7 linked regions of the Homo sapiens genome follow. The protein of the gene in region 1 purifies or fractionates together with the protein of each later gene. This does not show direct contact. Each region holds a gene or a part of one and is shown in the gene's direction. Other genes may lie near its edges.

Region 1 (3,500 bases):
GCTGGCGTAGTGGCTCATGCCTAAATCTCAGCACTTTGGGAGGCTGAGGCGGGAGGATCACCTGAGGTCGGGAGTTTGAGACCAGCCTGGGCAACATGGTGAAACCCCGTGTCTACTAAAAATATAAAAACTAGCCAGTCATGGTGGCACACACCTGTAATCCCGGCTACTTGGGAGGCTGAGGCATGAGAATCACTTGAACCTGGGCTGCGGAGGTTGTAGTAAGCTGAGATCATGCCACTGTACTCCAGCCTGGGTGACAGGGAGACATTCTCTCTCTCAAAAAAAAAAAAAAAAAAAAAAAACAAAACAAACCAACAAAACAAAGTAATCCAGGAACAACAACATGATGAAGGACTGCATGCAGGACTCAGTGATGGATGGTGGAAGACAGCCAGGAAGTTAAGCATGACTCTGGTATTAAGTGTTGTCTGGGAGAGTTAAGATTCCATTTACAGAAATAAGACCTGTAGGGGAAGCTCTTGATTTTTTTTTTTTTGCAGACTGCTGATTTCCTGATTACATGTGTTAAGTTTGAGGTATAGAGAGAAAGAACATCCTGGCCGGGTGCAGTGGCTCACACCCGTAATCCCAGCACTTTGGGAGGCCAAGGTGGGCAGATCACGAGGTCCAGGAGATCGAGACCATCCTGGCCAACATGGTGAAACCCCGTCTCTACTAAAAATACAAAAATTAGCTGGGCGTGGCGGCGCGTGCCTGTTATCCCAGCTACTCAGGAGGCTGAGGCAGGAGAATTGCTTGAACCCGAGAGGCAGAGGTTGTGATGAGCCGAGATCGCGCCACTGCACTCCACCCTGGCAACAGAGCTAGACTCTGTCTCAAAAAAAAAAAAAAGAAAGAAAAAAAGAACATCCTGTAGAAACAGGCAGTCAGAGGTATAGAACTACACAGAATCCAAGAGATCTTTCAAGAAAAGTGACATGCAGCAAGAGAAACTATCAAGGGGGTAAACAACCTATAGAATGGGAGAAAATATTCACAAAGTATACATCCAACAAAAGTCTAATATCCAAAATCTATAAGGAACCTAACAAGCAAAAAGCAAATAACCCCCTTAAAAAGTGGGCAAAGGACATGAACAGATACTTCTCAAAAGACGTACATGTGGCCCACAAACATGAAAAAACGCCCATTTCTAATCATCAGACAAATGCAAATTAGAACCACAAAGAGATACCATCTCACACCAGTCAGAACAGCTTTTGTTAAAATGTCAAAAAATGAGAAACGTTGGTGAGGCTGCAGAGGAAAGCAGACACTTGTACACTGTTGGTGAAGGTGTAAATTAATTTAGCGTAGGCACAGTCAGTTTGGAGATTTCTCAGAGAACTAAGAGTGGAACTACCATTAGACCCAGCAATCTGATGGCTGGATATACGGCCAAAGGAAAATAAATCATTCTGCCAAAAGAACATATGTACCTGTATGTTCATTGTGGCACCATTCACAATAGCAAAAACATTGAATCAACTCATGTGCCCATCAGTGGCGGACTAGAAAAGAAAAGAAAATATGGTACATAGCCATCATGGAATACTATGCACCCATTAAAAATAATGAAATAATGTCTTTGCAACAACATGAATGTAGCTGGAGGGCATTATCCTAAGCAAACTAACACAGAAACAGAAAACCAAATACTGCGTGTTCTCACGCAGTGAGAGTGGGAGCTGAACATCAAGTACACATGGATGTAAAGATGGCAACAATAGACATGGGTCTACTAGAGGTGGTGGTGCGGCAGGGTGGGGGTGGGGGTTGTGTGGCAGAGGAACAGCTGAAAAACTACCTATTTGATACTATACCCAGCACCTGGGAAACGGGTTCAGTCATACCCCAAACCTCAGCATCACACAGTATACCTTTCTAACAAACTTACACATGTATTCTGTGATTCTAAAATAAACATTGAAAAATAAAAAAAAAACTGACATGGTTTGTACTGTTTAATCTGACATAATGGCTAGGGGAAATGAAGTCTGCAGAATGGCTGTTTACGGATGTTGTTGTTGTTGTTGAGATGAGGTCTCACTATGTTGCCCAGGCTTGAACTCCTGGCCTCAAGCAGTCCTCCTGCCTTGACCTCCCAAAATGTTGAGATTACATGCATGAGCCATTGCCAAAACGGCTATTTGGATTGCTGTTAAGGTTATTACATTCTCTGTGTAGTAAGACCTTGAAGGAGAAGGATTTGAGATCAGGAGTTTAAGAAAAAATGTTAATCTAGGAAGAGAGGATAATTTCTGTGTTTGGCCAGTTGCAATGGCTCACGCCTGTAATCCCAGCGTTTTGGGAGGCCGAGCTGGGCAGATCACTTGAGCTCAGGAGTTTGAGAAGAGCCTGGGCAACATGGTGAAGCCCCGTCTCTACTGAAAATACAAAAATTGGCTGGGCGTGGTGGCAGGTGCCCACTGTAATTTCAGCCACTCAGGAGACTGAGGCAGGAGAATTGCTTGAACCTGGAAAGTGGAGGATATGGTGAGCCTAGATCGCGCCACTCTACTCCAGCCTGGGAGACTCCATCTCAAAAAAAAAAGAAAACAAGATGCTGAAATGAAGTAATTACCACAGTCAATGTGATCCTATAACTTTGTTTTGTTTTAGAGATGGGGTCTCCCTCTGTCACCCAGGCTGGAGTGCAGTGGTGCATCATAGCTTTCTGCAGCCTCCACCTCCTGGGCTCAGGTGGTCCTCTTGCCTCAGTGTTCCGAGTAGTTAGGACTGACTGCAGGTGCATGCTGCTATGCCTGGCTAACTTTAAAATTTTTTTGTAGAGGCGGGGTCTTGCTATGTTGCCTAGGCTGGTCTCCAACTCCTGATCTCAATCAGTCCTCCTGCCTACCTTCCCAGAGCGCTGGGATTACAGGTGTGAGCCATCGCACCTAGCCAATCTCATAACATTTTATGACTAGCAAACTTAGTAGTTCTGATTCAGGCATAAATCAGTTGGTGGGGTTATACAAGGTTGGGTGAGTTTTTCTAGATTTCTAAGAGACCATGTTGAAATACTTGGCTCTGTCTCAGTAAGGGATAGAGAGAAGCAAAGGTGTGGGTAAAGGTTATGAGCAGACATGTAAAGGGGGCAAATTAAAGTGTTTAGGGAAGGTGAAACAGTTCCAAATCATAATATAGATCCCAAGCCTCACCAAGAAGTGAAGGAGAGGGTAATTGTGCGATAGTTCTCAGGACTGAGACCTCAAGGTGTAAGACGAATCTTTATTGTGGGTGGTCCTCTTTGAGAAAAAGAACAAAAAAGAAAAATGTGAAATGGGTGCTAAATTTCAGAGCAGAATATACATATATGTGTATGTGTGTGTGTATATATATATATATTTTTATGTAGCAAATTCCAGTTTACAAAGGGCTTTTATGTGTTTTGCATCATTACAACAGTTCTGTGATGATGTGGATGTGGTGGATATTGTAATTCCACATCACAGAGGATAAAATTGAGGCACACCATAAGGTAGCTGACCAGA
Region 2 (3,500 bases), on another chromosome or scaffold:
GGCTCACACCTATAATCCCAGCACTTTGGAAGGCTGAGGTGGGTGGATCACCTGAGGTCAGGAGTTCGAGACCAGCCTGACCAGTATGGTGACACCCCATCTCTACTAAAAATACAAAAATTAGCTGGTTGTGGTGGCAAGCGCCTATAACCCCAGCTACTTGGGAGACTGAGGTTGGAGAATTGCTTGAACTCAGGAGGCAGAGGTTGCAGTGAGCTGAGATCGTGCCACTACACTTCAGCCTGGGCAATAGAGGGAGATTCCATCTCAAAAAAGAGAGAGAGAGAGAGGGAGGGAGGGAGGGAGGGGGAGAGGGAGGGAGAGAGAGAGAGAAAGGAAAGAGAAAGCTAAATGTGATAAGGGCGAGAGAGAGAGAAAGGGAAAAGAAGGAAAGAAAGGAAAGAAAGTTAAATGTGATAAGGGCTGGCAACACTGGAGGGTCTCTGCCTCTCAAGACTCAGCCTTGTTCACAGTTCAGTCCTGCCTCAGGGGCCTTGGCTGGTGCTGTACCCTGGTCCGGGTTGGCCCTCACCGGCCCCCACCCCGGCTCTGGCTCCTTGCCACCCCCCTCTCACAGTACTGATGTTTAAAACACATACGGGCCCTGGGGGACAGAGCAGGGTCAGGATCCCAGAAACAGCCCTACTTCAGCCCCGGCCCTTATGCTGCCCCACCCCTAGCTGAGTCCTGCCTCAGGACCTTTGCTCCGGATGTACCCTCGTCCACGTTCGCCCTCATTGGCCCTCCTCGAGCTCTGGCTCTCTGTCTGAAAAATAAATGTGGCCGGATGGGTGCAGTGGGTCAAGTCTGTAATCCCAGCACTTTGGGAGGCCGAGGCAGGCGGATCACCTGAGGTCAGGAGTTTGAGACCAGCCTGACCCACATGTTAAAACCCCGTCTCTACTAAAAATTGAAAAAATTAATGGGGCGTGGTGGCGTGTGCCTGTAATCCCAGCTACTCGGGAGGCTGAGGCAGGAGAATTGCTTGAACCCAGGAGGCGGAGGTTGCAGTGAGCCCAGGTTGCACTGTTGCACGCCAGCCTGGGCAACAAGAGCAAAACTCCGTCTCAAAAAAAAAGAAAAGAAAAAGGCCGGGCGCGGTGGCTCACGCCTGTAATCCCAGCACTTTGGGAGGCCGAGGCAGGCGGATCACGAGGTCAGGATATGGAGACTATCCTGGCTTACACGGTGAAACCCTGTCTCTACTAAAAATACAAAAACTTAGCCGGGTGTGGTGGCGGGCACCTGTAGTCCTGGCTACTCGGGAGGCTGAGGCAGGAGAATGGCGTGAACCCGGGAGGAGGAGCGGAGCTTGCAGTGAGCAGAGATTGCACCACTGCCCTCCAGCCTGGGCGACAGAGCGAGACTCCGTCTCACAAAAAAAAGAAGAAAATGGTGGCATCACTCCCAGGGGTGACAGCTGCAAACCAGGCCCTGCGCACGATGGGGCCCTCTGGTTACTGCCTCTCTTAGGCCAGCTGGGGTGGTTTGAGTTTCTCTTTCTTGCCTGGTCCTGACCTGCAGCTCTGCCGTGCGCCTGTTAATCTCCATATGATCCCTGGGTGGGTTCCCAGAGGGGTTCATGTTCCCTGAGGGTCACACGGGGAGGCAGGATTTGACTCCGGGACGGCCTGATTCCCCCACAGGCCAGCGGAGCCTGCACCACCGTGGAGACAACCTGGAGACCCTGGTCCTCCTGAACCCATCAGACAAGTCCCTGTATGATGAGGTAGGGAATGGCTGACGTCCTGGAGGGGGCGGGCTGCTGGGACCCGTGCCTTCTCTGTCTTCCTGTCTCGTGTCCTTGTCTTCATGCTGCCCCAGATCCTCTCAAGACACCCGGCACCACACTTCTTCGCCCACGAAGCCTTCCCTGTGGCTTCAGCCTCCGCTTCTTCCCTCCTCTGGGGTGGGAGCAGAAAAGCCTGGACTTTGGGAGGGAGGGGAGGGTAAGCACTCCCAGCTCAGGGCCCAGGACAGCGTGGGTCTGGAGGTGGGAAGGCCAGAGCAGACAGGTTTTCCTCCTGTGGGTTCCCTCCGGCTAGGCCCCAGGAGTTGTCTGAATCGACTCACTAACATTAACCAGCTTGTGGCCATCTGTACTCTACCAATTATACATCCGGAAGATGAACCAGACAGAGCCCTGGGGCATCCCACTACAGACCTTCTTACAGGTTGATTCCTTGGATCAACTTTTCCCTTTTGTTCCCTTGAGGGGCTCTCAGTCTTTAAGAGACAGAGTGAGACACAGACACCCCCAGCCCTGTGGCATCAGGGCTGGGCTGGAGGGAGAGGTGGACTAGAGAGAGCCCAGAAAGGGCAAGTAGTGCCTTCAGGAGGAAGGGACATCAGAGCTGGGCTTTGTAGGATGAATAGGAGTTTGCTAGGGTTGCTCCAGGGCCCAGCAGGAGACCTGGAGACTGCCTTCGTAGCTAGTTGAGCACTGGGCTGGTCGTGGGGTGAGGACAGGAGAGGGGTGGTTATGTATCGACTCGAGGCTACCCCAAAGAGGACTGCTGGATACGTCACTGCACAGAACGGGTCCTTTAGTGTTCACCCCCTCCCTCAGCTCCGGAACCTTCTGTTGGACCCTGCCTCTCACAAGCTACTGGTGTTGGCTGGGCCCTGCCTGGAGGAGACGGGGGAGCTGCTGCTACAGACAGGGGGCTTCTCGCCTCACCACTTCCTCCAGGTCCTGAAGGACAGAGAGGTAAGCCACCCCTTTGCCATCCCCTGCTTCCCCAGCTCTGAATCCTGACTGGGGTGTATCAGGCTGTGTGGCACCAGCGACCTGCTGTTTTCCATGGCCTGGTCTCCCCATCCTCTGTAGGATGGCAGTGGTGACACATGCCTCCTGGCTGTCTGGGGTCAGTCCCATTGCCCGCGAAAGGGTGTGGTGTGAGCTGAGTTTGTAGGTCAGCAGATGTCCCAAAGTCCTGATGAGGGATGGAGCCAAATGGGTCCTTCCTGGTGCCCGCAGTCTGGGTAGGACACATGGGCAAAATGGCAAACCTCACTTTCACATTGTAGTGGGGCACTTAAAAATGGTGAGAAAAGGTTCAGTAGACAGGTGGGGCGTGGAGAGTCTCCTTGGAGGGAGCTGTGCCCTGGGAGGAGAGAATGGTGAGTGTAAAGGCCCTGGGGCAGGGAGGCATTTGAAGGGGAGGGAGAGACAGGAGGTGAGGCCAGATCAAAGAGCCTTGTGGCGCTGGAGAGGGTTGGGTTTTGGCGGGAGGGCCCTGAGGAGCAGGCCCTGGGGGAAAGGATGAGGGTGTCCTCGCCCAGTTTTCCCACCGGGCTAGGTGTTGCCTGGCTCTAGGTGGTCCCTTACCACTCCTCCTCCATACAGATCCGGGACATCCTGGCCACCACGCCCCCACCTGTGCAGCCGCCCATACTCACCATCACCTGCCCCACCTTCGGTGACTGGGCTCAGCTGGCACCCGCTGTGCCTGGCCTTCAGGGGGCGCTCCGGCTCCAGCTGCGGCTGAACCCCCCGG
Region 3 (3,500 bases), 1.2 Mb from region 1:
GATTCTGACCAAAAAAATGATGTGTGCTAGATAGCAGCAGTGCCCTGAAACTAGCATGCAAGCATCCCAAACAGCATTCCATACCATCACCAAAGTAAGAAATTGTTGCTCTAAAATAGTTTCCTCCCCCAGTCTCTCTTGAATAGTGTCCTGGGTTCCCCTTTTCGTCTTAGAAACATCAGGTTCTGGCGAGTGCCGCTCACCACACTGCTGACTTGGGACAATAGTTCCTGTCCTCTCTTGGGAATAGTTTAATCAGGCATTAGAATTAGAGCAACTGATAATGTTTTGAATGCTGACAAGTATCTTGTTTGCTGACTGCTGTCATGATTGTCAAAAACAAAAGCTTTGAGCCCATACTTTTAAGACCTTATTTGATGTTTTTGTTTCTTTTGAGACAGTCTCACTCTATTACCGAGGCTAGAGCACAATGGTGCAATCTTGGCTCACTGCAACCTCTGCCTCCCGGGTTCAAGCGATTCTCATGCCTCAGCCTCACGAATAGCTGAGACTACAGGCATGCGCCACCATGCACAGCTGATTTTTGTTTTTCTTATAGAGACGGGATTTCACCATGTTGGTTAGGCTTGTCTTGAACTCCTGGCCTCAAGTGATCCGCCTGCTGCAGCCTCCCAAAGTGCTGGGATTACAGATGTGAGCCACCATGCCCAGCCCTTAAGACCTTCTTTGAATACTCCTTTGTATTTATCTTGTGGCCTTAATTTTGCTTTTGGTTAAGGAAATTAGTGAATGGGGTTTAGCTTCATTCTTCATTTAGAGGAAAACTGTAGGTAATTTATTCTGAAAGTGTGGTCAGACGGAATCTAAGAGAACCTGTTTCCCTTGGCGACGAAAAATAATCAGTTGAATGTCTGAATAACAGGAATCCTTTTCTGCTCCCTATGGGAAAAAAGAAACCTTGAGTTAATATTTTATGTAATCAGTGCAATGTGCTACTAGGTAATGAGTGGGAAGTAGATGGAGAATATAGGAAATAATGCTTGGTCTCTGTTCTTTAGAAGATTACAACCACAGGCTGGGCGCGGTGGCTCACGCCTATAATCCCAACACTTTGGGAGGCTGAGGCGGATGGAACACGAGGTCAGGAGTTCAAGACCAGCCTGGCCAAGATGGTGAAACCCCATCTCTACTAAAAAAAAAAAAAAAAAAATTAGCCAGGCGTGGTGGTGGGCGCCTGTAATCCCAGCTACTCAGGAGGCTGAGGCAGAGAATTGCTTGAACCCAGGAGACAAGAGGTTGCAGTGAGCTGAGATCACGCCACTGCACTCCAGCCTGGGCAACAGAGCGAGACTCCGTCTCAAAAAATAAATAAAAAAAAAAAAAGATTACAACTACAGAATAACATAAAATTATATATTTGCGATAAGCAAATATAAACCATGTGGTCTCAGACACACTTTGGCTGCTTCCCCTGTCATAGGTAGAGAATTACCAGAACTCCTCTTTTGTTTTGCCATTCTAGTATTCATGTTATTTACTCCTCTTGGCAAATTTAACTGGTTTAAGAGTGATTTAGTTTACGTAAATTGGGCATTTGGAGGCATTCTATGGTAGAAAGAATGTGTACTTGGGAGTTAACATGTCTTTGAATGCTAGCACCCTCCCTTATCAAGCTATTTGACCACAGGTCCCTCTAAGACTAAACAACTTGAAAGTCTCCCTCAAAATGGGAGTAATAGAATAACTACCTCACAGAGTTGGTGAAAAACACAGGTGTGCTCTGGCCCATGGACATTCAATAAACGTTAGTTTCCTTTTCTTCCCATCTAACTAGGAATGTGTTTTTTCTAGATTGAATGACAAAGTGAAGAAGAAAGCTCTAACATCATTTGAAAGGGATTCCATCTTCAGCAACTTGACTGGGCAGCTTGATTACCAAGGTTTTGAAAAGGCCGACATGGTGATTGAAGCTGTGTTTGAGGACCTTAGTCTTAAGCACAGAGTGCTAAAGGAAGTAGAAGCGGTAAGCAAGGGGCTGTTGTACTTGAATCCTAGTGTAGTGAACAGAAAACACAGAGATTTTTTTTTTAAAGGAGCTATAGGAAACTCATGATTGCTTTTATAAAAAGGACTATTCAAAGGCTGGGCATGGTGGCTCACGCCTATAATCCCAGTAGTTTGGGAGGCTGAGGTGGGCGGATCACGAGGTAAGGAGTTCGAGACCAGACTGGCCGATATGATGAAACCCCATCTCTACTAGAAAATACAAAAATTAGCCGGGCATGGTGGCACACACCTGTAGTCCCAGCTATTTGGGAGGCTGAAGCAGGAGAATCACTGGAACCTGGGAGGCAGAGGTTGCAGTGAGCCGAGATCACGCCACTGCACTCCAGTCTGGGTGACAGAGCGAGACTCCATCTCCAAAAAAAAAAAAAAGACTTTTTGTTATCAAACGTTAAGTTTTTATGTGTGCTCATGCACACTGCATATGTTATAAAGGTCAAATCTAAATTCTAAAGGAAGAAAATGAGGGTGCGTTCACCTTATTCATGTAGGAGCTCTGTCACCCAAACATACAGATAACCTCACAGAGTATAGCCAGATGCTTTGAGATTTTTTGGTTAGCCGAAAGCCAAAAACAAACCTCTTCAGGTCTAAGGCTGCAAAGGAAATAGGGAAGACAGTTCGTCCAGATGCTTGTTCTGTGGAAATGCTGCTTTGGCCCAGCTCCCAAATGTTCTCCATAGGCACTTCTTGAGATGGGCTGACATGAACAAAACAAGTACTTGAAGTGGGGAGTAGGAAGAGTAAGCCCCGAGAAGGAGTAATAGCAGTAATTCAGGGATGAGGTAGGACCAAGGCCTAAGCTAGTCTACAGTTGGATAAACAGAATGTGGGTTACTGAAAGGTGAACATGAAATGATTCTGACTTGGCAACATGCTGGATATAATGAGCAGTGAGCTCATTACAAAAAATAAGAGTACCACAGAGCAAAACTCCGTCTCAAAATAAATAAATAAACAAACAAACAAACATTATCTTCTCTTATTGCCCATAGAGCTAACAAAACCCATTCCTTGGACAATCTTCCACAGGCATGATCTCTAGACCACCCCGTTTCGGTTGTCCTCTCTAGTATCTTCCTCATGTCTCCGTGTTCTACTGCTGTGTTTACAACTATCTTTTCACAATTCTGCAATCTGGGCAGGGCTCTGCAGAGACAGTGGTGCTTAAGTCCATTGATTTCAAGGCTGGGGTCACTCCTGGGCTGCATTCCGCAGGAAGCTCGGTTGGGGCACCTCACTGCTTCCCCCACATCTCTCATAGTCCATCCTCACTTAGTCGTCTCACCACAACTTCTTTGTAGCGTGGCTGCAGGCTTCCAAGAGAACAAAAGCAGAAGCTACTGAGCTTCCTAAGTTTATTGTCAGGAAGAAAAAAAGATAAATAATTTAAAAAATAAAAAAAGAGGCTACCGGGCCCCACAGGTCTAGGTAGGCCTGGAACTGGCAGGGTAACTTCTGCTGCATTGTGTTGA
Region 4 (4,300 bases), on another chromosome or scaffold:
CCATCCTACTGCAGGCCTGTGTGGCTGCTAGAGAGGCCAGGCTCCTTTCCGCACCCCGAGGCTGCCCGATATGCTTTCTGCATCCTGTAGAAAACTGACCCACTATTCTCATACTGGTGCAACTTCTTCCATTACCTCAAAACTGGACAACGTGAACTTGTTTCTTGTCTCTTCTTGCTAGGGCTGTCACTGGGACAGTCCGAGATGGGGGGGTGGGGGGAGACAATGGATGAATGGATGGATGAATGGACAGTAGTCCAGGGAGATGTCCCTGTGTGTCCTGAACTGGGACCTTCCTCCAATGAGAAGCCTTCCTGAGTGAGTTTATACAGTCATCCCTTGGTATCCATGGATTAGTTCTAGGGTCCCCGGGGATGCCAAAATCCATGGATCCTCAAGTCTCTGACATAACATGGCCTAGTATTTACATATCAGCTATGCACATCCTCCCGTAGACATTAGACCATCTCTGGATTATTCATGATGTGTAATACAATGCAGATGCTACATAAATGGTCGTGATACTGGATTCTTTAGGGAATAATGACAAGAACAAACTCTGCACATGTTCAATAGAAACATAACCGTCCAATTTATTTTCTGAATATTTTCCATCTGCTGTTGCTGAATCTACAGATGCAGAGCTCCTGGATACGAGAGCCAAGTGTGCTTTGAGAGTAGGGTGGGTGAGGTTGCTAATGAGTACAGGGGAGCAGGTGTTGATCAGGAGGACCCTGCACTGGGGCATCTGGACGTCCTGCCTCAGGACTTGAGACTCCAGTTGGATGGCACAGGCAGACTCAGCCCAGGTCAAAGCCGTCCCCTTGAAGTTTCTTTTTATCCCAAGCTCTTTCTGGCCCCTGGAATTTGGCATCCCCTAGGCCCTGTGTGGAAGGACAGATGAACCAGGTTTTAGATAACATGTCTAGAAGAGTGAGCCCCTACTGTGTGCCCGGCACTTTCCCCACAGGATCCTCTAGCTAGAATATCCAAGGGTCATGGAGAGAAATACCCAGTTAAAATATCAGAAATGAAAAAGCGATACCATTAGAGACACTAAAAAGACCATTAGGTAATAGTACTAGCTTTTGTATTCTGAGATCCAACAGCAGCAGTCACTTCCCTCCACCGCTATGTGTATCCCAGGACCACCCTGGGCAGGGAGGGCTGAGGTTAGGGAGCAGCCATGGATGCTCTGATGCTGGCCCTGGGCCTCGGGGGTGACAGTGATGAGGAACTGGGTGCACACATGAGTGGGGCAGCCGGGCCTGGCCAGAGAAGCAGCACACACGTGCACAGATGTGTTTACCCACATACACATGTGCACGCACGTGCACAAACACATTGCAGGCAGGCATGTTGACGCCTCAGGCAGCGGAGGACCCTGACTCTGGGTGCTGCTGACCCGGGCAAGGCCCCACTGTGATTCGTGCCATGACCTCAGAATGTCACTGGTGCTTAGCACCTATCTGCTCTCTGGTCTGCCTCAGTGGTCTACAGCAGTTACACACAGGCAGTGGTATCTGTGAGCAGCTCTGTGGACTCAAAGGTTTTCTCCCTGAGAGGCATGACCCAGGCCAGCTGATTCATCAGAATCAGGTGAGCGTGACCTGCTCTCTTCCCTCCAGGCGGACTTGGGGGCAGTGGCTACGGTGCGGGCGGTGTTGGCCTCTGTGGGGCAGCTACCGAGGAGGGTCATCCCTGAGCACTCACCAGGCGCCCGTTCTACACTGCCCGTGTAGACGATTGGCTCTTTCGTCTCCATGGTGGCTTCGTAGAGTGGGTGCTGTTCCCAAATGTCCCCATTCGACAGATGAGACGTCTGGGGTCAGAGAGGCAGTAACCGGCCTGGGAATCCGGACATGACCCTGAGTTTTGCTCTCAGCCCTGCCGTGTGCTGTGCTGGAATTCAGGCCTGAACCCTGTGACCTCCCTGCCCTAGATCCCAAATCTGCCCAGGTTTCCCATCCCGATGGGGCAGAGCCTGGTCCTGGCAGAGCCACTGGTATAGAGCCACTGGTACAGATCCACTGACGGTCCTCAGAACACCTCTGTGCCCTAAGCTGGGTCCTGATGGTCGCTGTGGGCCCCACTGAACACACATGGTCCCTTGTCCGGGGGAGCCTGCTGCCCTTGGGCAGCTGTGGAAAATGAAGGAGCCCTGGAGGGCTGGCTGAGGGGAGACTATCTTCCCTTGTGTTCAAAGGGGTCCGGGCACTAGGGTTCTCCCCAGGTATTTCTTGCTCTGCGTGGTCCTCTTGAGGCCTCGCCCTCCTTTTGCCTCGAGTATTCCCAGGAGGGACGGTCCATCCAGCTGTTCTCCAGGACCAAGGACCCACTGTTCTTCCTCAGTGACCCAGGAAAATGAAGCCTCCTCCTGTTGGGACGGCTCAGAATGGTGGACTCCACAGTCCCTCCGCGAGAGACGTGGTTTCCATGCGTACAATAGATCTTCCTCATCCCCCAAACCCAACACCCTCCTGCTCAACAGGCGTTATTCCTAAAGTGGCTTCACTGTTCAGACTGAAGAGCCACGGTAGCCAAAGTGATGAGCGGAGTAGAACCGAGCAGTCGGGAGAGATCTTGTTCCCTGTAGGAAACTGGGCATCGCTGAGGCCCTGAGCATCCCAGGAGGCCGATTGCACAGAGACCTCTGGTCGCTGACCCCAGTCTGCCTCCACATCCCTGGAATAGCCCATCATGGGCCCTTCACCCTTGGCAGGTGGAAACCATTCAACCTGCTGGGGCCGGTGTGTCCCCATTTCATGGCATTGGGGGACAACAGGATTCTCTGTCTAGGTCCCACTGTACTCAAGTCCTTGGGAAGATGCCCACCCCTGCTTGGGACTTGAGACTCCAGAGACTGGAGCAGCTGTGGGCCACTGGGTCTGGCCCCTTTTTCCCTGGGGGCGGCGGTGGAATGGGGGTTACGCAGCCAGCCAGCATCTGGGAGCCCGGCGAGAGCGGTTCAGGTGTTCTCCGAAGCCGCCGCGTACAGTGTGACCTTTAGACAATTCTGTCTCACAGGATGGACGTGGTAGAGGTCGCGGGCAGTTGGTGGGCACAAGAGCGAGAGGACATCATTATGAAATACGAAAAGGTACAAGTCGGTCTGCTTCTTGGAGGGAGGCCTCTTCCAGTGTGCCCTGGTCAAAGGGTCCTGGGCTCCCTAGGAGCACAGGGCAGGGACGGGTGGCCAATGCCCCCAGGCCCTTGCACCCTTTACCTTGGACCCCTCACCAAGGCTCCCTCTGGGCTACAGGGACACCGAGCTGGGCTGCCAGAGGACAAGGGGCCTAAGCCTTTTCGAAGCTACAACAACAACGTCGATCATTTGGGGATTGTACAGTGAGTCCTCTGCACTCCCCTCACCCCTAAAGCACCTGTCTCAGCTCAGGGATGGGTTTGCTTTTAGAAAGGCCTTTCTGACGCAGGACATGTCTCACCAGGTCGGGTCAACCTCCTTTCCAGGGACAGAACTCCTCCCTGACTCCCCTGCAGGTCCAGCCCGAGGTTGTTAGGCCAGAGGTGTGGGGCCCATCTAGGGAGCCGGTGGGAATGGAGACTGGGCTAGGTCAGGCCCCTGGGCGCTCAGCAGTTCTGTCGGCAAGTGAGCACAAGAGGAGCGGGGCAGCCTGAGGGTCTGGCCCTGTCTACTTGGAGACAACCCCGGTGAGATGCAAGGGTTATGGCCACAGGGTGAGGGGACGCCTGGCCCAGCCTCAGGGCTGTTGTCCAGCAGGTCTCTGAGGGCCCACCTGCCCCTGTTCTCCCCCATTCCCCTAGAGCTACAGCCCTCACTGTCCCGTGAGGGGAAAAGGCATGGTGACAATGGGGGCTGTAGCCCTAGGAGAACGGGGGAGAAGATGGGCAGGGCCCCGTTCTGGGCATCTCACGGTGAGGCCAGGGAGGCAGCAGGGCTCGCGGCTAAAGACCTGGGTCTGGTGCTGGGAAGGGATCTGGGGCCAGGTAAGAGGAGCCCAGCCAGGAGCCCATCCCTCAGGGATCACAGGATGGAGAGACAGAGGATCCCTGGGGAGGTAGGGCGGGAGGGAGCTGACGAGCGGTGCCACTTCTGAAACGCAGGGTGTGTGGCTCGGGTGCAGGGAGAGGCAGGTGGATGCTGGGAGGTCAGAACCTGCAAGGGCCTTGGGGCTGTCAAGTGGGGTGGGCCCCTGGTGCAGCCAGAGTACACCGGGCAGGTCTCAGGGCAGGCTCCCTTGACCCTGGCGGGGGGATGTGGTCACTCCCTGAGGGACTCCTGTCAGGGCCCGGTCGCCCACCCTGGGCGGCCCCCATC
Region 5 (2,202 bases), on another chromosome or scaffold:
ATGCACAAAATATATGAATGAACTTCATCAGACATTGAGAAGTAAAGGGCTTAGGACAGCTTTCCATGACAGAAAGGAAACAATGAGATGAGCCTTATGATTGCCCCAGCTTAGTGCCTGGAGAAAGTTTCCAGTCTGCAGGATTGGGAGGAGAAACCCAAGCAGATCCCAGCCATCTCTCTGAATTGAGACAGAGTTTAGGGTTTGAGGAATTCAAGGTGGCCCAAATTCATGAATTGGATTATTGGAGAAGAGCTGCACTCAAGAATTGAGAGTTCTGTAGAGTTTCCCCCACAAGCCTTTTGAGTCATAATCAGCATATGTATGTGAGAAACCCCCCCTAGGCTGGAGGAAGAACAGGAAGAAATGAACACGCAGAAAAATCCTTGGATTACACACAAGCATTTCCACCAGCTGGAGTGGAAACGCCTCCTAACATTTGGAGAATCACAGTGGACCTTAAGTAAGGAGTATTGCCTCTGTGGGTGGCTCAGATTTGCTCTACAGTAAAGGCTGCCTCGAACTCTCCTCACAAAGCATACATGCAAGCCATGAAAAGGCCATACTTTCCAAGTAAGTTAGCAATTTTCCAAACAGAGACTAATAAAGAAATAGAAAGCAATCTACCAGTCAGTAATTGACCATGTCTGGCATCCAATACAAACTTACCCAGGTGTGCAAAGAAGCAGGAAAATATAACCCCATAACATGAAGAAAACTCAGTAGAGACCCAGAAGTGGCACACTTATAGCAGAAAAGGATGTTAGAAATAGCTGCTATAAATGTCCCATATGAATCAAGTGGATTATAAAAACTATAATTTACTGATGGGTTCCCCCCACCTGAACAAGGGGCAGATGAAGCTCAGTCTACGCACTGGACCCAATGCCCCTAGGATGTTAATCCTCCCAGGGAGGGACCAGAAGGAGGCAATTACCAGCAATCAGCACCAGGTTCCCTGAGAGGGAGAAGCAAGCTCAGCTGAATTTGTGCAGTGTAGTCTACCCGGTGTTTAGCCCCTCTTTGCCTTCTCTGGGAACTGAGGCTTTTGAACAGGGCTGCTGAGCTTCCTAGGAAGTGTAGTTTGGCCATGGGCAGTGCTTGAGACACCTGTGCTGGGCAGTTGAGGTTTATGGGAAGTACAGTTAGGAGGCCTAACAACTTATTCTAGTTAGCGGCTGGTGTGTCTTGACTGTTTAGCCCCTGTAGGGGTTTCTGGCACACATCTGCCTTTGGCCATTTTTCTCCACATTGAAGGGGTCCAGCCCGTCCACACCTGTGGGTGTTTCTCGTCAGGGGGGACGAGAGACTGAGAAAAGAAATAAGAAATAAGACACAGAGACAAAGTAGAGAAAGAACAGTGGCCCCAGGGGACCGGTGCTCAGCATATGGAGGACCCGCACCGGCACTGGTCTCTGAGTTCCCTCAGCATTTGTTGATCACTATCTCTACCATCTCGGAGAGGGGGATGTGGCAGGACTATAGGGTAATGGTGGGGAGAGGGTCAGCAGGAAACATGAGCGAAGGACTCTGTGTCATAAATAAGTTTAAGGAAAGGTGCTGTGCCTCGATGTGCACATAGGCCAGATTTATGTTTGACTTTACACAAATATCTCAGTGCAGTAAAGAACAGTATCGCTGCCAGCATGTCTCACATCCAGCCATAAGGTGGTTTTCTCCTATCTCAGCAAATAGAATGTACGATTGGGTTTCACACCAAGACATTCCATTCCCAGGGACGAGCAAGAGACAGATGCCTTCCTCTTATCTCAACTGCAAAGAGGCCTTCCTCTTTCACTAATCCTCCTCAGCACAGACCCTTTATGGGTATCGGGCTTGGGGACGGTCAGGTCTTTCCCTTCCCACGAGGCCATATCTCAGGCTGTCTCAGTGGGGAGAAACCTTGGACGATACCCAGGCTTTCTTGGGCAGAGGTCCCTGCGGCCTTCCGCAGTGCATTGTGTCCCTGGGTACTCGAGACTGGAGAATGGTGATGACTTTTACCAAGCATACTGCCTGCAAACACATTTTAACAAAGCACATCCTGCACAGCCCTAAATCTAGTAAACCTTGAGTCAACACAGCACATGTTTCTGCGAGCACAGGGTTGAGGCTAGGGTTACAGATTAACAGCATCTCAAGGCAGAATAATTTCTCTTAGTACAGATCAAAATAGAGTTTCTTATGTCTTCCTTTTTCTAC
Region 6 (3,500 bases), on another chromosome or scaffold:
GTAATTCATGTTTTAAATGTTTAATTCTGGCAGTCGGGCAGGGCTCTCTGTATAACCTCATTTGGAGATGACAAAAATCTAAACTTGAGGGCCTCGAGCCAATAAGTCTTCCTATTTCTTTACTCAAACATTTTCCCGCAATGGTGCTTTCTTTCAACTGTTTTTCTGGTGTATTCATAAATTCCAGATTCTCTATGGGAAGTAACTTTTATTGATTGATTTAACCCTTGTATAGCACATATAACATGCAAGGCATTGTTCTAAGAACTTTCCACATATTAACTGTGTTAATCACTTAATAATCCTAAGTAGGTTCTATTACAGATATGGAAACTGAGGCACAGAAAGTTGAAGTATCTTACTCAAGGTCACACAGTTAGTCAGATCCAGAATTTGGGCCCAGGCCATCTGGCTTCGGAATCCATCTTTCACCGATTGCTGCTAGTCTCATATCTGTTCCATGTTAGAGGTGAGCTCCCATTGCAGAGGTCACACCTGTGATATCACCATTTTATTTAAACAGACCAGAGATGGTCTTCTCCTTTCTGATCACAGACTCACCTTGAAGAGAAAATACTTCCAAATTGATGCCTAGTTTTAATAGCTTACCTGGGGCTTATTCAAATAATTGCCATGATTTAGGCTTTGGGAGAAAGAGAGCTATGAGGCCGTGTGGGTTGTAACGTATGAGACACATGGCGTTCTGCAGGCTCAGCACAGCATCGATTTCTGGTGGGAACACACTCTGATGACCAGTTCCAGAAATAACATTGACTTAATCTCCTCAGTCCCATCATGGTTAGCACATTTCAAAATGCCTCCTTAACTACTTCCATAGGCCAGAGATATTTAGTTTTAACATTTTGTTGAATAAAATAAATTTACACATTCACATTTAATATAACTATTAGATGTTATTTCAAGATTCTCTTCATATTACCATCAAAGCAGGCAGGCAGGCAGGAGAGAACTGTAGGAAGGTTTTGAATCCCTTGTGAAACATTTTTAATTATCTTTTAATAAAGGAATCAGGCCCTGTCATTTGTCAAGGAGACATTTGCAGTAGTAAAGCTTGTGTTTATAATATCCATTTTTATTAGTCATGATTAAAGATAACATTTGTGTACATTTGTTCTCACAAAACACTTTTATATGAGTGTAAAGGTTAATTAATGCATTTCAGCCATCATTTTGCTGGTCATGTGGAAATATAGCTTCTTTAGGAATTGTACTTAGAGTAGGAGCCACATATTATACTATAAAACCATAACAAAAATATTTTAAGTTTGTTCTCACTTGTTGTTGACCTCCAGAGTAAAATATTTAATACTCTGGAAAGTTATGGGTTTCAAAATTTATTTTATGGCAAGAAATAGATAATTACAGTTCTCATAGAGCACATTTAAAATAATTTATTTTTATAGGGCAAAAATATTGCCTAGGACTGAATGATTTTTTTTTTTTTACAAAGATTGTAAAGCAACGCCTGCAAGAGTGCCCATTTAGCAGTTATTCTTCTGGAATAATTGTATTTTGGATGTTGGAGTTCGCACATTAACCATTAGTACAAGTACCCAATATAACAATAGATCATCAGGATAATAAATCTGTCCATCTTTTAGTTGTATGTCTTTATATCAGGATAAAGAGAATTGAGTGAAATTTATCTAAACCTAGTCCCACAAATACTTTTACAAGAGAGCATGTTAAAGTGTAAATTAAATTTTTATTAGCATTCTACTCTGTCTTTGGAAGTTTTTTTTCCTTATGAAATGCAGCCATAAAGTTTAACTTCCATTAACAAAGCTGCTCACAGTAAACCTATTATAATAATAGTTTCCCAGTTTGGGCTTCCTAGTGAGGAGCAACCTAACTCACACGAAACAACCCCAACTTATAATATATTGACTGTTACAAAACTGAGACCAGAAAATCCCATCAAGATGGTACTGTTATCATTTCCAGACTCTCGGGAAGAACATTAATCATCTCAGGCACTTTTAGGATAGACTTATTGCAGCCTCCCTGGGAACTCTGCTTCAGAACATAATTATTTTTATTAATGCAGAGTTACTTTTTATTTCCAACAAAAATATCTATTGTTATTATTTAAGTCTTACAGCTTTATCTGAGAAATTCCAATTAGCACCCTTCTCATAATAAATATTCAAACACATGAAAAATTACCAAAGTTGTTCTAGTCTTTTAATGACATATTACATGATCCTGCACTCTTGTCACTTTAAAAATTATCTTTTTATTATATTTCTGATGATTTTTTTCTTATATAGTTTTTTAAAAGGAGCAGGCAAGCATAGAAGACTAAAAAATGTTCAAAAGAAAAATTAAATCGCATGATCTATCTATATGGGACCTTGTCATTTTTAGAAAACATTCACCTGCTTCATCCTTTTGAATCTTCATATAATCCCTCTGAGATGGGCATACTATACAAGTTGTCTTATTTAAAGATTGGTAAATTTAAGCTCAAATAATTTATTCAGTGGCAAGCCTCAGAGGCAGACTCGGAACACAGGTCTAATATATATTATATATATATTATAACATATAATATATATATTACATATAATAAAGTTGTGTATATTATTTACCTATCAAAATATTTATATGTAATATATAAATATGTTATATATCATGTATGTGCCTATTTCATACATATATACACATTCATGCAAAATAAGGTTTAGCACTCCCTCCACTGTCCTGTAATAAAACATGCACAGTGAGAATAGTCATACACGAGGCATATTTGTCTTCAGTTTAAAGTCATTGATAGTCAGTGTCACTAACTAAAGTAAAATAGATTGGAGCACCAACTTTGTTCTGAAGCCTGTGCCAGGTATTATGAGAACAAAAATAAAAATGTTCCTCACCCTTGGTGGATTTAGTCTTTTGCAGAAAAAAAGATCCTGTACATGTCAGAAAGTTCAATAGTAATAATGGTAATTTATAACTATAAATGGAAGTCACCATCTCACAATTTCACCATCTTAACAATTTTGTTAAACTGCCCTACAATATTACAAGATAGTACATAATGATACACTAGTAACATCAACTAGGAAGTACCAAGATCCACCAAAAGGCTGAAAAATTTAAATATTTAATGAGTCCATCAACCAATCTGGCCAGAGAATTCTTTAATTAAAATGCTTCCCAAATTTTACTGAGAATCAGCAGCGTTTGAGGAGCTAGCCTCCACCCCCAGAGGTTCTCACTCTATTAGGTCTGAAGCAGGTCCCATGGATTTGCATTTCTAACAAGCTCCCAGGTGGTGCTGATGAGGCTGATTCAGAACCACACTTGGAGTAGACCTAAAACAGCAGTGACCTGTAGGGTCCCCAAGCAGCAGGCCAGGACAGCATGTGAGTTACGTCCTCTGTGGAGCTCTGCAACAAGGCGTCAAGAGGTCAGAGTCTAAGTCCCCATCAGCTCTGCCCTTCTCCACCAGTGCTGCTGGTGCTGCATGGAAGGAAGAG
Region 7 (3,500 bases), on another chromosome or scaffold:
TGAAATTATATTTGGTATAGGCCATTCGTGCATACTGACTAGTTAAGAATTCAATGGAAGAGTTATAAACTATAATTTAAAATATTGATCCGGTTTATTTCTTTATATTTTCATGTACTGCTCTGTGATTGCTTATAGGATGAAAGTATATTTAATTGTATTTTTTGCCATGTATGTTTGTTTCTACTTTTGAGGGAGAAATAATCAAAAATTAAATCCAATAGAGCCTGTCTGAAGCAGGTTATGACCAATTGCCACCCCCTTTTCTAAAAAAAAAGGACATGTAAGAGAATCTTAGGTAACATCATAAAGACCTTTCTTGAGAATATGAATAGTATTTTAGTCAAATTTCAGTTTATTGCTTTTCTCTTCCCCCAACTACTGAAGTCATTCCAGATTAGAAATTAGCATATAGAATGGTGAGAAAAATTTTGACTGAAGAATTCATTTTCTTCCACCAAAAACTCGACTTTTAATAAGATAAATATAGGTTATTTCACTGTCATGAATCTTGATTCCAAGGAAGTAATAAACAGCAAATCCTTCTTTTCTAAATAAGGGATGTATATATTTGCAAAGCTGGCAAAGGAGTGTGTACAGTTCTGCCAGTGGACCTGACCTGGGCAAAACCAGGTGGTTCCCCCCTGCTCTTTCTAACCTCCCTTGGGGTCCAGGGCAAGGCTGATGCTCTCTCCTGGGCTTTTCTCATTTATGGGACTAACGAGGATAGTATAATGTGATTTCTGCCACGCTTCATCCAGGAAAAGCAACCATTTTCTTTGCAAAAGCAACATTTCAGTGGATTTTCACTGATGTGTGGTGACAGAAAAATGGACTTGAAGGAAAAAAAATGCACCAAGAGTCTGTTTAGCTCTGGCCATGGTTCTGGATGAAATTTATTATTTATAAATTTATAATTTATTATTTATCTGGTTTAATGCTTGGTTTTCAGAGGAGAGAATTTCAAGATTCAAATACAAATGGAGTTTCTTGTGCCAGAATGAAAGCGGCAGCCTTAAGACAGTTGTTAATGACCATTGAACGTGCATGTATAGTTTGAATTCTAACCAGGAAATTGATAATGAACAACAATTTTATGTTACTATAGAACTACTTTTTTTAAGCTGAAAATACCTTGAAATGAATTTATGTCAGACACAGCCAGCAAGAGACACTGGCTTTTTCATAACTGCCCCTGCTTGGTAAGAAGATAGACTGAATCCTGTTTACCTTACGTGTTTGAAGATGTGTTTGCTGATATAACACACACACATATGTAGCAGAGAGAGTTTGTAGTTTGAGATTATTTTCTAGAAATCTGTGATTTGTGCTTTATTACAGCTGTGCAGTTTCTCCAGAAAGCATTTTAAAATTGCAACGCCTTTCTCTAGCTCTAACCTGGGTCTAAGATGGCTGCCCCTGCCATGCTGCACATGCCTGTTCCACGCTTGGTGTTTGCATCAGACATGGGATTGCAGATGAAAAACAGATAGCGCTCCTCCTCTCCAGGGTTGACAAACTTTGCCTCTAATCACTGATTCTTTGATCTCAGCTTATTATTCCCTCAACTGGCTATGATTAGAAGCTCCACAACTGAGCTCCTTAATTTCTTTTCGTGACACATTGTTTTAAAAACTCATTTAAAATTATTGCAGAACTCACTTAATTGAGCTCCTTAATGTTTTTGATTCTTTTTAAAATTTTTAACTTTTAATTGTGTAATAACAGTGTAATATAATAATTTAACTGATTACTTGGGCGTGGTGGGTACACCTGTGGGCCCAGCTGTGTGGGAGGCTGAGGCGGGAGGATCCCCTGAGCCCAGGAGGTGGAGGCTGCAGTGAGAAGAGATCTCACCACGGCATTCCAGCCTGGGTAACATAGCGAGACCCTGTCTCAAAAATAAATACATGAATAAATTGAATTTAACTGTGCCTAACTATAGTTTACCATGCCACCCCTTTGGGGTGTGCAGTGCAGCAGGCCCAGAACCCCTTGCTTTGCAAAATGCAGCTTTTTGTGGTCCCCACACTTGCCTAGTAACCGCCGTTTTGTTTTGTTTTGTGTTTGCTTCCAGAACTCCAAGATGGGAGGCAAGCTCAGCAAGAAGAAGAAGGGCTACAATGTGAACGACGAGAAAGCCAAGGAGAAAGACAAGAAGGCCGAGGGCGCGGCGACGGAAGAGGAGGGGACCCCGAAGGAGAGTGAGCCCCAGGCGGCCGCAGAGCCCGCCGAGGCCAAGGAGGGCAAGGAGAAGCCCGACCAGGACGCCGAGGGCAAGGCCGAGGAGAAGGAGGGCGAGAAGGACGCGGCGGCTGCCAAGGAGGAGGCCCCGAAGGCGGAGCCCGAGAAGACGGAGGGCGCGGCAGAGGCCAAGGCTGAGCCCCCGAAGGCGCCCGAGCAGGAGCAGGCGGCCCCCGGCCCCGCTGCGGGCGGCGAGGCCCCCAAAGCTGCTGAGGCCGCCGCGGCCCCGGCCGAGAGCGCGGCCCCTGCCGCCGGGGAGGAGCCCAGCAAGGAGGAAGGGGAACCCAAAAAGACTGAGGCGCCCGCAGCTCCTGCCGCCCAGGAGACCAAAAGTGACGGGGCCCCAGCTTCAGACTCAAAACCCGGCAGCTCGGAGGCTGCCCCCTCTTCCAAGGAGACCCCCGCAGCCACGGAAGCGCCTAGTTCCACACCCAAGGCCCAGGGCCCCGCAGCCTCTGCAGAAGAGCCCAAGCCGGTGGAGGCCCCGGCAGCTAATTCCGACCAAACCGTAACCGTGAAAGAGTGACAAGGACAGCCTATAGGAAAAACAATACCACTTAAAACAATCTCCTCTCTCTCTCTCTCTCTCTCTCTCTATCTCTCTCTCTATCTCCTCTCTCTCTCTCCTCTCCTATCTCTCCTCTCTCTCTCTCCTATACTAACTTGTTTCAAATTGGAAGTAATGATATGTATTGCCCAAGGAAAAATACAGGATGTTGTCCCATCAAGGGAGGGAGGGGGTGGGAGAATCCAAATAGTATTTTTGTGGGGAAATATCTAATATACCTTCAGTCAACTTTACCAAGAAGTCCTGGATTTCCAAGATCCGCGTCTGAAAGTGCAGTACATCGTTTGTACCTGAAACTGCCGCCACATGCACTCCTCCACCGCTGAGAGTTGAATAGCTTTTCTTCTGCAATGGGAGTTGGGAGTGATGCGTTTGATTCTGCCCACAGGGCCTGTGCCAAGGCAATCAGATCTTTATGAGAGCAGTATTTTCTGTGTTTTCTTTTTAATTTACAGCCTTTCTTATTTTGATATTTTTTTAATGTTGTGGATGAATGCCAGCTTTCAGACAGAGCCCACTTAGCTTGTCCACATGGATCTCAATGCCAATCCTCCATTCTTCCTCTCCAGATATTTTTGGGAGTGACAAACATTCTCTCATCCTACTTAGCCTACCTAGATTTCTCATGACGAGTTAATGCATGTCCGTGGTTGGGTGCACCTGTAGTTCTGTTTATTGGTCAGTGGAA

Evidence for each region.
Region 2: the proteins of PPM1G (region 1) and MAP1S purify together in Homo sapiens (affinity purification with mass spectrometry; one large-scale study listed by BioGRID and IntAct). This does not show direct contact.
Region 3: the proteins of PPM1G (region 1) and HADHA purify together in Homo sapiens (affinity purification with mass spectrometry; 2 studies listed by BioGRID and IntAct, with this or other methods). This does not show direct contact.
Region 4: the proteins of PPM1G (region 1) and TBC1D3G purify together in Homo sapiens (co-immunoprecipitation; one large-scale study listed by IntAct). This does not show direct contact.
Region 5: the proteins of PPM1G (region 1) and ZNF577 purify together in Homo sapiens (co-immunoprecipitation; one large-scale study listed by IntAct). This does not show direct contact.
Region 6: the proteins of PPM1G (region 1) and STMN2 fractionate together in Homo sapiens (co-fractionation; one large-scale study listed by BioGRID). This does not show direct contact.
Region 7: the proteins of PPM1G (region 1) and BASP1 fractionate together in Homo sapiens (co-fractionation; one large-scale study listed by BioGRID). This does not show direct contact.

What each region holds. Positions count from the first base shown.
Region 1 is NC_000002.12:27,389,092-27,392,591, reverse strand, and holds part of PPM1G (protein phosphatase 1G), read left to right. Parts: intron 1-3,500.
Region 2 is NC_000019.10:17,722,480-17,725,979, forward strand, and holds part of MAP1S (microtubule-associated protein 1S), read left to right. Parts: intron 1-1,646; coding exon 1,647-1,729; intron 1,730-2,569; coding exon 2,570-2,710; intron 2,711-3,349; coding exon 3,350-3,500. UniProt on the Homo sapiens protein: Microtubule-associated protein that mediates aggregation of mitochondria resulting in cell death and genomic destruction (MAGD). Plays a role in anchoring the microtubule organizing center to the centrosomes. Binds to DNA. Plays a role in apoptosis.
Region 3 is NC_000002.12:26,199,633-26,203,132, reverse strand, and holds part of HADHA (trifunctional enzyme subunit alpha, mitochondrial precursor), read left to right. Parts: exon of another isoform or gene 1-813; coding exon of another isoform or gene 814-900; intron 901-1,812; coding exon 1,813-1,984; intron 1,985-3,500. UniProt on the Homo sapiens protein: Mitochondrial trifunctional enzyme catalyzes the last three of the four reactions of the mitochondrial beta-oxidation pathway.
Region 4 is NC_000017.11:36,322,384-36,326,683, forward strand, and holds the start of TBC1D3G (TBC1 domain family member 3G), read left to right. Parts: upstream 1-1,500; 5' UTR 1,501-1,599; intron 1,600-3,027; 5' UTR 3,028-3,028; coding exon 3,029-3,100; intron 3,101-3,262; coding exon 3,263-3,348; intron 3,349-4,300. UniProt on the Homo sapiens protein: Acts as a GTPase activating protein for RAB5. Does not act on RAB4 or RAB11.
Region 5 is NC_000019.10:51,868,750-51,870,951, reverse strand, and holds part of ZNF577 (zinc finger protein 577), read left to right. Parts: 3' UTR 1-2,202. UniProt on the Homo sapiens protein: May be involved in transcriptional regulation.
Region 6 is NC_000008.11:79,617,617-79,621,116, forward strand, and holds part of STMN2 (stathmin-2), read left to right. Parts: intron 1-3,325; exon of another isoform or gene 3,326-3,346; intron 3,347-3,500. UniProt on the Homo sapiens protein: Regulator of microtubule stability. When phosphorylated by MAPK8, stabilizes microtubules and consequently controls neurite length in cortical neurons.
Region 7 is NC_000005.10:17,273,131-17,276,630, forward strand, and holds part of BASP1 (brain acid soluble protein 1), read left to right. Parts: intron 1-2,077; 5' UTR 2,078-2,086; coding exon 2,087-2,770; 3' UTR 2,771-3,500.